Homo sapiens: one gene and its partners. The protein of the gene in region 2 interacts with the protein of the main gene of each other region in a pairwise test. Each region holds a gene or a part of one and is shown on either strand. Other genes may lie near its edges. The genes, in order: KIF2C, SGF29 and ITPRID2.

The links.
Region 1: the proteins of SGF29 (region 2) and KIF2C interact in binary tests that used the Homo sapiens proteins (3 or more experiments, as listed by UniProt).
Region 3: the proteins of SGF29 (region 2) and ITPRID2 interact in binary tests that used the Homo sapiens proteins (3 or more experiments, as listed by UniProt).

Annotation. Positions count from the first base shown.
Region 1 is NC_000001.11:44,756,709-44,760,359, forward strand, and holds part of KIF2C (kinesin-like protein KIF2C), read left to right. Parts: intron 1-847; coding exon 848-938; intron 939-1,199; coding exon 1,200-1,263; intron 1,264-1,340; coding exon 1,341-1,432; intron 1,433-2,497; coding exon 2,498-2,640; intron 2,641-3,571; coding exon 3,572-3,651. UniProt on the Homo sapiens protein: In complex with KIF18B, constitutes the major microtubule plus-end depolymerizing activity in mitotic cells. Regulates the turnover of microtubules at the kinetochore and functions in chromosome segregation during mitosis.
Region 2 is NC_000016.10:28,584,841-28,588,491, reverse strand, and holds part of SGF29 (SAGA-associated factor 29), read right to left. Parts: intron 3,580-3,651; coding exon 3,504-3,579; intron 2,845-3,503; coding exon 2,772-2,844; intron 1-2,771. UniProt on the Homo sapiens protein: Chromatin reader component of some histone acetyltransferase (HAT) SAGA-type complexes like the TFTC-HAT, ATAC or STAGA complexes.
Region 3 is NC_000002.12:181,926,079-181,929,729, forward strand, and holds part of ITPRID2 (protein ITPRID2), read left to right. Parts: intron 1-2,082; coding exon 2,083-2,187; 3' UTR 2,188-2,200; intron 2,201-3,482; coding exon of another isoform or gene 3,483-3,578; 3' UTR 3,579-3,651.

The DNA of each region.
Region 1 (3,651 bases), on a different chromosome or scaffold from region 2:
CACCTGGCTAATTTTGTATTTTTAGTAGAAACAGGGTTTCGCCCTGTTGGTCAGGCTGGTCTCAAACTCCTGACCTCAGGTGATCCGCTCGCCTTGGCCTCCCAAAGTGCTGGGATTAAAGGTGTGAGCCACTGCACCTGGCCCCAGATCTGCTCTTTCTAATACAGCACCCAGTACCCTCATAGGGATATTTACTTATTTTATTTTTATTTATTTATTTGTTTTTTGAGACAGAGTCTCAGTCAGTTGCCCAGGCTGGAGTGCAGTGGCGAGATCTCAGCTCACTGCAACCCCCGCCTCCCAGGTTCAAGCAATTCTCCTGCCCCAGCCTCTCAAGTAGCTGGGATTACGGGCACGTGCCACCACACCTGGCTAATTTTTTGTATTTTTATTAGAGACAGTTTCACCATGTTGGTCAGGCTGGTCTCAAACTCCTGAGTTCAGGTGATCCACACACTTCGGCCTCCCAAAGTGCTGGGATTACAGGCGTGAGCCACTGTGCCCAGCCAGTAGTGTCTCTTCTGCTGGAAGCTGGATGCTGAGCTTAGGCTTTTATGCTGTGTCTCCAGGGTCAGAGGAAAGGTCAGATGGCTTAGAGTATGGGCCATCAGCTTGCTTCTGGTTAGTCGGCCCAGTGATCCCCCAACACCCATCCCACTGCCAGTTTGCTAGGAGTATTTCAGATTTGTAAAGTGGGGTTGGGGTCAGGTGGGACCACTGAGGCAGGAGAGGAGTGCTATTCTTAGAAGGAGGAATCGACCCTAGAACTCTGCAGTGGAAGGGTGGCAGGACATGTTCCAGGGAGCACAGTTTGGGAACAGATACAAATACTCTACCCCTCTTCTAGGTTCACAGCAAGGCCACTGGTACAGACAATCTTTGAAGGTGGAAAAGCAACTTGTTTTGCATATGGCCAGACAGGAAGTGGCAAGACACATGTGAGTATTGAGGCCTGGCGGGGAAAGAGCCTTTCCCTTGTGCACCCCTGGCTCCCTATAAAGGGAGACAATGAGTTTGTTGAGAAAGGCCCCTTGTTACAGATGCCCCATCACCAGATAGCCTTGCCATGTCAGATGCAGGGAGGGGCTTTAGGTCCAGCCTTCTGGCTTTGTTGTGGCCCACTGTAGTGAAGGAGCCAGTAGTGCTCTGCTCTAGGCCAACAGCCCTTTTCCATGGTCTTCTACCCCTTCCCTTTGCAGACTATGGGCGGAGACCTCTCTGGGAAAGCCCAGAATGCATCCAAAGGGATCTATGCCATGGCCTGTAAGTACTGTGTACTGCTGCTTCAGGGTTGGGCACAGAAAGGCAGGTTGTTTGCTTAGCAAAGTTCTCTCCCTCAGCCCGGGACGTCTTCCTCCTGAAGAATCAACCCTGCTACCGGAAGTTGGGCCTGGAAGTCTATGTGACATTCTTCGAGATCTACAATGGGAAGGTAGCTGGCAGGAAGCCCCTTGTTTACACTGTTGGGGCCCAGCACTTTTTAAAACCTTGAAGCTGGCTAGAAGTTGAGGCCAAAAACCTATTAGCTGATTAGCTGTCAAGCCACTGATGGGCCATTCTGCCCTGGCATACACATGTAGGTGGTTTAATCTGATGGTGAGATGGCACCTAAGTTCAAGAAGTATGGCAAGAATACTCCTCAGGGCGCCCTTTCAGGTGCAAGGTTTGCCTGTGTGTGTCCTGACCTCCCTCGGCCGACCTCCTTCATCCCTTCTTCCCCGATTGTGCACGTTCAGTCTCATATTCATTCTTTCCCTGCCCGCACCACCATATATCTCTTCCACCCCTCTCTCTATTCACTGTGTGCTTCTGCAGAGTTGCTTTCCTTAGAGTGGGATCTAGATAATAAAAATAGCTAATATTTATCATTAATAAGATATTAGGGGCCAGGCGTGATGGCTCACACCTGTAATCCCAGCACTTTGGGAGGCCGAGGCGGGCAGGTCACCTGAGGTCAGGAGTTTGAGACCAGCCTGGCTAACATGGTGAAACCCCATCTCTACTAAAAACACAAAAAATTAGCTGGGCATGGTTAGGGGCACCTGTAATCCCAGCTACTCGGGAGTCTGAGGCAGGAGAATCGCTTGAATCCAGGAGGCAGAGGTTGCAGTGAGCCGTGATCGCACCATTGCACTCCAGCCTGGGCGATACGAGCGAAACTCCGTCTCAAAATAATAATAATAATAAGATATTAGGAGCTATGCACTATTCTAAGCACTACCTGTCTCACCTTTACAGATGAGATGCAAGGCTAGAGTGGTTATTAACTTGCCCAGGCTCACACAGCTAGTAAGTTACCAGAGTCACAGCAAACTGAGGCAGTTCGGCTCAGATCCCAAGTATATTGACCTCTGCTAGGCTGACATCCATCAGTTCGTATTCTCTGCCTTTCCTGCTGCTGGCTCTTGTCCGAGCTGGGCAGGCTAGTAGGAGGAAGCAGTCGGGTGGGGTGCCGGGTGCCCAGTGGCCTTAGCCTCATTCCCCCTGCCTGGCACAGCTGTTTGACCTGCTCAACAAGAAGGCCAAGCTGCGCGTGCTGGAGGACGGCAAGCAACAGGTGCAAGTGGTGGGGCTGCAGGAGCATCTGGTTAACTCTGCTGATGATGTCATCAAGATGATCGACATGGGCAGCGCCTGCAGGTGAGAGTCCTGGTGAGGGGAAGGAGCGACCTTCTCATGTCTGGTTTATGAGTAAAGTCTAGCTCTGAGCACATTTCTGTTTACCCAGAGTGCTGCTTTGCCCAGTTTGGTAAGGGCTGCGAAGGCCTCTGCTTTACGGGGTCTCAATAAGACATATGACCCCAGGGCCAGAGGCTTATCAGAACCAAGTCAGGTCAGGCACAGTGGCTCACACCTATAATCTCAGCAGTTTGGGAAAATGAAGCAGGAGGATCACTTCAGGCCAGGAGTTAGAGGTTGCAGTGAGCTGTGATCGCACCACTGCACTCCAGTCTGCATGGGCAGAGCAAGATCCTGTCTCAAAAAAATAAAAATAAAAACAAGTCAAAGTGTTACCCCAAAGGCATGCTTCCTGGCTTCTTTGGGTTCTCCTTGCTCTTCCCTCCCTTTGTGGTGGAAGTCGGGAGCTCTGGGTCTGTTCTGGGCTGGAAGTAATGGGTTCATACCCCCTCTGCACAGAATTAGGGGAGCACTTTTCCACTAGGGCTGTAGACATTGGTACAGTGGGGCGCTACGCAGCTATAGAGGCCCAGGGAGGGGGCTGCCCTCTACAGGGTCCTCAAGTTCTGGCAGGTGGTTCATGACAGCTTCCCCCTTCCCTTTGGGCCCTTTAGCAGAGGGAATTTATCCTTCCCCGTGTCCTTCTAGGGCTCCAGGTCTGACAAAGGCCCTAGTCCAGAATCCAGTACTAATTTGGCTGCCAGGAAAATGTATTAGGTCCAGAGCTGGAGGGAGAATTGCTACCCAGGGAGGGCAAGATGGAAGCCTGGGACAGGAAAACAGGACTTTTTCGCCTCCTAACCTGTGTCCCTCCCTTCCTAGAGAACTTCTGTGGACTTGGGTGCCATGGGGGCTGGTGACCACAGAATCTCATAACCTTTCTTTACCACAGAACCTCTGGGCAGACATTTGCCAACTCCAATTCCTCCCGCTCCCACGCGTGCTTCCAAATTATTCTTCGAGCTAAAGGGA
Region 2 (3,651 bases):
ACTAAGAGAACACAGGATCCCAGAGAGGAAAGGACACAGGCAAACTGCCTTCGGCAAACCCTGCAGAAAGGCTGCAGGAACCTCCTGAAATGAGGAGAGGGGGCCTCAGGTCTGCCCGAGGGTCACACAAAAGGAGGGGAGACTCTGGGGAGAGGTGCTGGCCCAGAGCAGAACTGGGTGGAAGGACCTCATCCTTTCTGAAAGGCTGAACCCAAAGACAGACCCCTGCATGGCCTTGAAGCCCCAGGAAGCCTCTGTGAAGTTAGTTTATGGGGATTCCAGGGTGGCAGGAACCCAAAGAACCCAGCAGAAGCAAACACAGAACTTGGCTGGAGTGAGGCTCCTTCATCCTAAAGCTCAGGGAATCTTCCCAAAGAGTATTTCCACAGCAGGGATGGGTGTGGTGGCTCACGCCTGTAATCTCAGCACTTTAGGAGGCTGAGGCAGGAGGATCACTTGAGGTCAGGAGATCGACACCAGCCTGGCCAACATAGAGAAACTCCTTCTCTACTAAAAATACAAAAATTAGCCCGGCGTGGTGGCGGGCGTCTATAATCCCAGCTACTTGGGAGGCTGAGGCAAGAGAATCGCTTGAACCTTGGGGGCAGAGCTTGCAGTGAGCCGAGATTGTGTCACTGCACTCCAGCCTGGGTGACAGAGCGAAACTCCATTTCAAAAAAAATACGTATTTCCACAGTAGTCAGCAGCACAAACTCCACTTTGGGTCATTTTATTTTCCTCTGATACCATGGCAAACCCCAGTCCATTCCTCTGGCAAGCCTTTCTGAAATGACCCGGAGTTCTAAAGACCTTTGTGCGGCAGGAAGGAGATGCACAGGAACTGGGTGTGATGCAGCATCTCGGGAGGTGTCCGGGGGTGCCCCAGGGCATGTGACTCATGGACCTCACCAGGCCAGGGCCAGAAGATGGAGGTAGGCCAAGGGCAGCCAAACCAACGCAGGGACAAGGAACAGCTTGCCTGCTGCGTACAATGCAGGGATGGCCCAGCCAGTGCCACCTCAGGCTGTGAGCACCGGGACCCCAGAAAGCAGAGAAGGAGAAAGAGCCACGGGGCCAAAGGGAACTCTGAGAGTCTCATCACTGTTGCCAGGCCTGTGTGGAGGATACAGTTTTATACAGCCTGTCCTAAACTGTCTTCTGTGACATGTTACTGAAGTGGCTTTCAAACCTTGGTGGGCATCAGAATCTCCTGGGGGAAGTTTAAAAAATCTCAATTGTTTCACGCACAAATCATAAATGGATGCTAAAACTAGTGTGTTTGATATGAACAGGATAGTTACAGTCTCAAAAGTATCTCCCAAGACACTTATTAATTATGCAATGGAGGCCAGGTGCAGAGGCTCACACCTGTAATCCCAGCACTTTGGGAGGCCAAGGTGGGTGGATCGCTTGAGCTGAGGAGTTCAAGACCAGCCTGGGCAACATGGCAAAACCCCTCTCTACAAAAAATACAAAAATTAGGTGGAGTGGTGGCAGGTGCCTATTGTCCCAGCTACTCAGGAGGCTGAGGCAGGAGGATCACTTGAGGCCAGGAGTTTGAGGCTGAAGTGAGCCATGATTACGCCACTCCACTCCAGCCTGGATGACAGACTGAGACCCTGTCTTAATCGATCAATCACACAATGGAAAATAGCAGTAATCTGATACAAGAGAAACGTGGAAAATACCACTTTAACCAATGGCACAGACAGCATCCTGTGCCGTCTAATATGACCCACCAGAGACACCTCTTCTGTGCCAAAAGTGTAAAGCATGAATCCTACTAGTGAGGAAATGTCAGATAGTTAATACCAATGTTGGAGCTCCACCCCAAATAAACAGAGCCTCTGGGCACAGTCAGACTTCAGAACCAGTGTGTTCTCAAAGTAGAGGAATGTAATGTTCAAGTTCCTGAATCTCCTGCAGAGATTCAAGGAAACAGTGTTTCCAGATCATTTTTTTATTTTAGTTTTTTTTTTTTTTTTGAGGCAGAGCCTTGCTCTGTTGCCCAGGCTGGAGTGCAGTGGCACGATCTTAGCTCACTGCAACCTCCGCCTCCTGCCTCAGCCTCCCAAGTAGCGTGCGCCACCACACCTGGCTAATTTTTGTATTTTTAGTAGATATAGGGTTTCGCTATGCTAGCCAGGCTGGTCTCAAACCCCCAACCTCAGGTGATCCACCCACCTTGCGATTGCAGGCATGAGCCACTGTGCCTGCCCGGCCTTAAGATTATTTTAAAAGCAGGAGTTTTCTGGAAGTGAAACTTCTCCATCTCAGAACCATAAAACCTTCAGGTCATCTGAGTATGACTTCCCAGCCAAGCTTACAGACACATGCCACCACGCTCAGCTAATTAAAAACTTTTTGTAGAGACAAAGTCTCACTTTGTTGCCCAGGCTGGTCTCAAACACCTGCGTTCAAGTGATCCTCTAACCTCGGCCTCCCAATCACCTCTGTAATGTTGTGATTACAGATCTGAGCTACCCAGCCCCTGATATCCCTATTTTAATGACTCTGCCAAGGTCATAGAGCCAGTAAACGGCAGTGTTGACTCACGCCTTGCCACCTTCTGTAAAGGCATTAGCAGCAGAGGTAACTGGAAGAGTGGGCCTGGCAGTGGGCCAGGGAATGCGGGACCCAAGCGAGAGGCTGGGAGTAGCAATCAGCTTATCCATGGGAGGAAGGCAGGCTGGGGACTTGGTCCAAATGGACCTGCAGCCCAGCCCCCAGGAAAGGAGGGAGCGGCGATGAAGTGGGTGCACGGTACTCACTTGCACTCAGCCTCTGCATCGGCCTTGGCGGTTGTGTAGAGGCCACGCAGCTTTGTCCGGTAATAGGGAGAAACTGCAGAGGAAACACAGGGATAAGGAGGCAGGGCCAGGGCAGGCACAGTAGCATGGCACTGCTTCCATGCACCGGAATCACACTCGTGGAGGCACAGAGAGGCCGTAGCTGCAGTCAGAGCTCTGCTGGCTCAGGAGTGCTCCTGAGGCGGATGCCCCCAGGCTCCATGAGTCCGCATTTCCATATGGTACAAATGCCATCCCTACATCTGCGAGAGTACTGTCTTACCTTTTCTCCATCATGACACTCACAGAAAATATTTGTCAGGACCCAGGAAAACACAATTCTCAGAGTTACCCAGAGTAAGAAAGCCCCAGCCCCAGGATCTCACCACCTGAGGGCCTCAGGGCAGATGCAGGGGCCGCCTGGGAAGGAAGCTCCTTTCTAGAAAACACCAGCTAACTGGGGCGCTTGTGTGCTCTAAGGGCAAGCTTCCCTAGATACAGCCTCATTTCACTGCCTTTCGAATCCTCAGAGTAGAGGGATTTTAGTTCTTCAGGTCACCCAGATTAACGGAAAGCTGTCCCTCCTGCTGCATTTTGGAATATGCAGATACATGCAAATCTATTTTGAATACAATGACCACCTCGGTCACAGTCTTGGCCATACTCACCCTAGCCCCATCTCATCCCCTTTCTCTCCTGAGCCCAGCTACTCACTCTTGTTCTCTGTCTGCATCCGCTCATGGGTCTTCTGGATGTTCACTAAGTTGTGTTCGCTCCGCGAACGCTCTTCCTGTAAGGAAAAGAGCAGCAGGACATGACGGTGGCCCTTTGTGCTGCTGTGGTACCCTGCCAGCCAGGCCAG
Region 3 (3,651 bases), on a different chromosome or scaffold from region 2:
GCCTGGCCAACATGGTGAAACCCCATCTCTACTAAAAATACAAAAATTAGCCAGGTGTGGTGGTAATCCCAGCTATGCAGGAGGCTGAGGCAGGAGAATTACTTGAACGTGGGAGGCAGAGGTTGCAGTGAGCCGAGATTGCGCCCCTACACTCCACTCTGGATGACACAGCAAGACTCTGTCACAAAAATAAATAAATAAGAAATATATTTTATGAAACAGTATTCATTTTGTGTCCATTGAGATTATATCATGCTTGATGGTAGGGATTCTTTTATACTTTATTCCAATAATGCCTGTACTCCCAAAAAAGATTGGCACACATTCCTGGTTTGTCAAGAATACATTTTGGCGACTGGGCGCGGTGGCTCACGCCTGTAATCCCAGCACTTTGGGAGGCCAAGGCGGGTGGATCACAAGGTCAGGAGATCGAGACCATCTTGGCTAACATGGTGAAACCCCGTCTCTACTAAAAATACAAAAAATTAGCCGGGCGTGGTGGCGGGTGCCTGTAGTCCCAGCTACTCAGGAGGCTGAAGCAGGAGAATGGCGTGAACCCAGGAGGCGGAGCTTGCAGTGAGCCGATATTGTACCGCTGCACTCCAACCTGGGTGACAGAGTGAGAATCCATCTCAAAAAAAAAAAAAAAAAAGAGAATACATTTTGGCTAGTTTGTTTTTTGAGTGATGAAGAATAATGAGATATAATAAAATGGCCATATTGCATTGGTAGCAGGACTGGAAAGACTATACTCATTGTTGTGAATATAGATTTGCAGTGGTCCTAATTCAGTATGTTGTATTTCTGTTTATATACTGTGACTAAGAGATTCTGGTTTTTAAAATATTTGTATCCAACACATACTTGTTTGAAAAGTAAATCTGAAGTGCTGTGTGCTTCAGAATCTTCTGATGTTGTTTAAAGTTTAGAAATATTGATAAAAGGTAAAGTGAAAAGCTTATAGTATTTAAATATATTCCAGTACAGATGGTTGGTAGCTAAGGAGTGTTTTGTTTCTTTAAATAACTATGTATAAATCTATGTATTGTGTACCAATTTTGCATGATAGACTAATACAGGACCATTTTTGGAAAGATTATAGTTAAGATGTGTTTGAGATGTACTTAGGAACATTGTAGGAAATAAATCAATTTGGCTGACAGGAAACTGGAAATGTAGAATTTTTAAAAGCTTGTTGAGAGTATCTTGAGTGCTTATTTGGGAACACATTATCACTTTATTTCAGGAAATACACATTTATAGCTTTCACAAAGGGCTATTTAAAAGTGATGCTGTATCATTAGAGAGAAAAGGTGGAGATAGGCATATGTAAGTGTTTGGACACCTGTAGAAGAAAATCCTGATGGAATTGTCATTTCCTCAGGTCTGTTTGCCTTTTCCAACAATAAAATGAGATGTATATCCTCATATCCTATATGCATATTGGAAACAAAAGCTTAGATGGCTGGCAGTGATACCATGCAACTAAAGAAAAAGTTATTTCTTTAGAGTTTATGGTTGTTTTGAGGATGTTTTTTATATTATAAAATAAATTGTACTAAATGATAATTTCTTCTTCCCATTTTAAATGTGTTAGGTTGAACAATATGTCTTTAGATACCTTGCTGTCAGTTGGCATAAACAGGCAGTATACCTGTATACTATTTTGCCTCTAAAAGATTTTCTCAGCAATGAGAGCACTTGTGTCTCTGCTGATTACCTTACAAAGTTAGACAATACTAAAAACATTTAAGAAGTCCTTCCAGATTATTTTTTTGACATGAGGTAAAGTATTTACTAGAAGTTTTTTAACTTATGAAATAACATTTTCTAATGTCCTCACCTTATGAATTGTGATATTTGTAATCTAGTTAGCTGAACAATTCTAGACCAGTCCTTGGGAGTCTGATCTGGGTTGGATGATAGATGGACTCGATTCCCCACTCCCTCTCTGTATTGCAGGGAGATTCACATGAAGGTGAAATTAAGAAATTGAATGCTATTTGTATTTTTTCCAAAAACAGGAAAAAATGAATTCCATTCATATTGGTAAATTTTTGTTTTATTGTTTTTCCAATCTAGATTAAAGAGTCTATTGTTGGGGAAATCAGACGGGAAATTGTAAGTGGACTTTTGGCAGCAGTATCTTCAAGTAAAGCGTCTAATTCTAAGCAAGATTATCATTAAACAGAAATTATAGGTAAATTTTTCTGAGTTTCTTTGTTGAGCTAAATGTAAATAGTAACTGGCATTTTATTCTTTGTTTTGTTAGTATACAGGTTTGGTTCTCTAGTTAAATTTTGAGTTTTAGAATGTATGTAATATGTTATTTTACAATGTGAAAATTTCACACAAGCCTATTTGAAGTGTAAGTCAAATCCCATAATACAAATCTCCAAGGAATTACTTATATTGGGTCATTCTACTGAAATTTCATTATAGTAATAAATCCTGGAATTGGACCTTCAAACCTGAATCTTATTTTGATTATAATGGTATTTCAGATGTATAGTTTTAAAGAACAAGATTTTGTGAATTAATCACAACTTCCTTTTTTTTTTTTTTGAGACAGAGTCTCGCTCTGTCGCCCAGGCTGGAGTGCAGTGGCGGGATCTCGGCTCACTGCAAGCTCCGCCTCCCGGGTTCACGCCATTCTCCTGCCTCAGCCTCCCAAGTAGCTGGGACTACAGGCGCCAGCCACTACGCCCGGCTAATTTTTTGTATTTTTTAGTAGAGACGGGGTTTCACCGTTTTAGCCGGGATGGTCTCGATCTCCTGACCTCGTGATCCGCCCGCCTCGGCCTCCCAAAGTGCTGGGATTACAGGCGTGAGCCACCGCGCCCGGCCGAATTAATCACAACTTCTAAGTATCTTTCCTAATTATTTTTATCTTTTAAAGAAACATATCCCATAGATTCATTTCTAATAATAATTTATTTCAAAAAACTCTTTTATATGTCTGTCTTAGTAAAACGAATTACTTTCATTTTATCTCGTAGCTCTAATTACATTAAAAAATTTTTTTGTAGAGATGGGGTCTTGCTATGTTGCCCACGCTAGTCTTAAACTCCTAGCCTCAAGCGATCCTCCTGCTTTAGCTCTAACTTCATTTTATATAATATATATTAATAATAATTCTTGGTGAATGCAAAAAGAAAGAATAAGTTGAGTAGAATAGAACTAAAAATATTCATTGAATAAGACATGAGAAACAAATGTAATTTGAAAAGTATAATATACAATTTCAGATATAGGAAATTGGAAAGTATTTTAATAAATTATGTCACAAAGCAATTAATAGGAATTATTTTTTTTAAAGCCAGGGATATAAGAATTAACTCTCAGGAAGATGTATAGAGATTACAGGATAATCATGTTTCTGTGTATATATATTTGCATAAAATTCTCATCTTCCTTTAAAGAAGCTTTTAATAACAGTATTTGAAAGAGGTTTAAAACTGACTTCTCTTTTCTTTTTTAAGGTTGGCATGGATCCTATTAGCTGTGTAATACTGGAATTATCAATGATATGCACTGGTGGAGGTGTTATTTGTGCTTTAGAAGATACTTGCTGTTGAGCTGGGCTACTGTATACAGTGTACAATGTGTATTTCTTCAACCATATATTTTAAAAAGACGTACATAGAAACT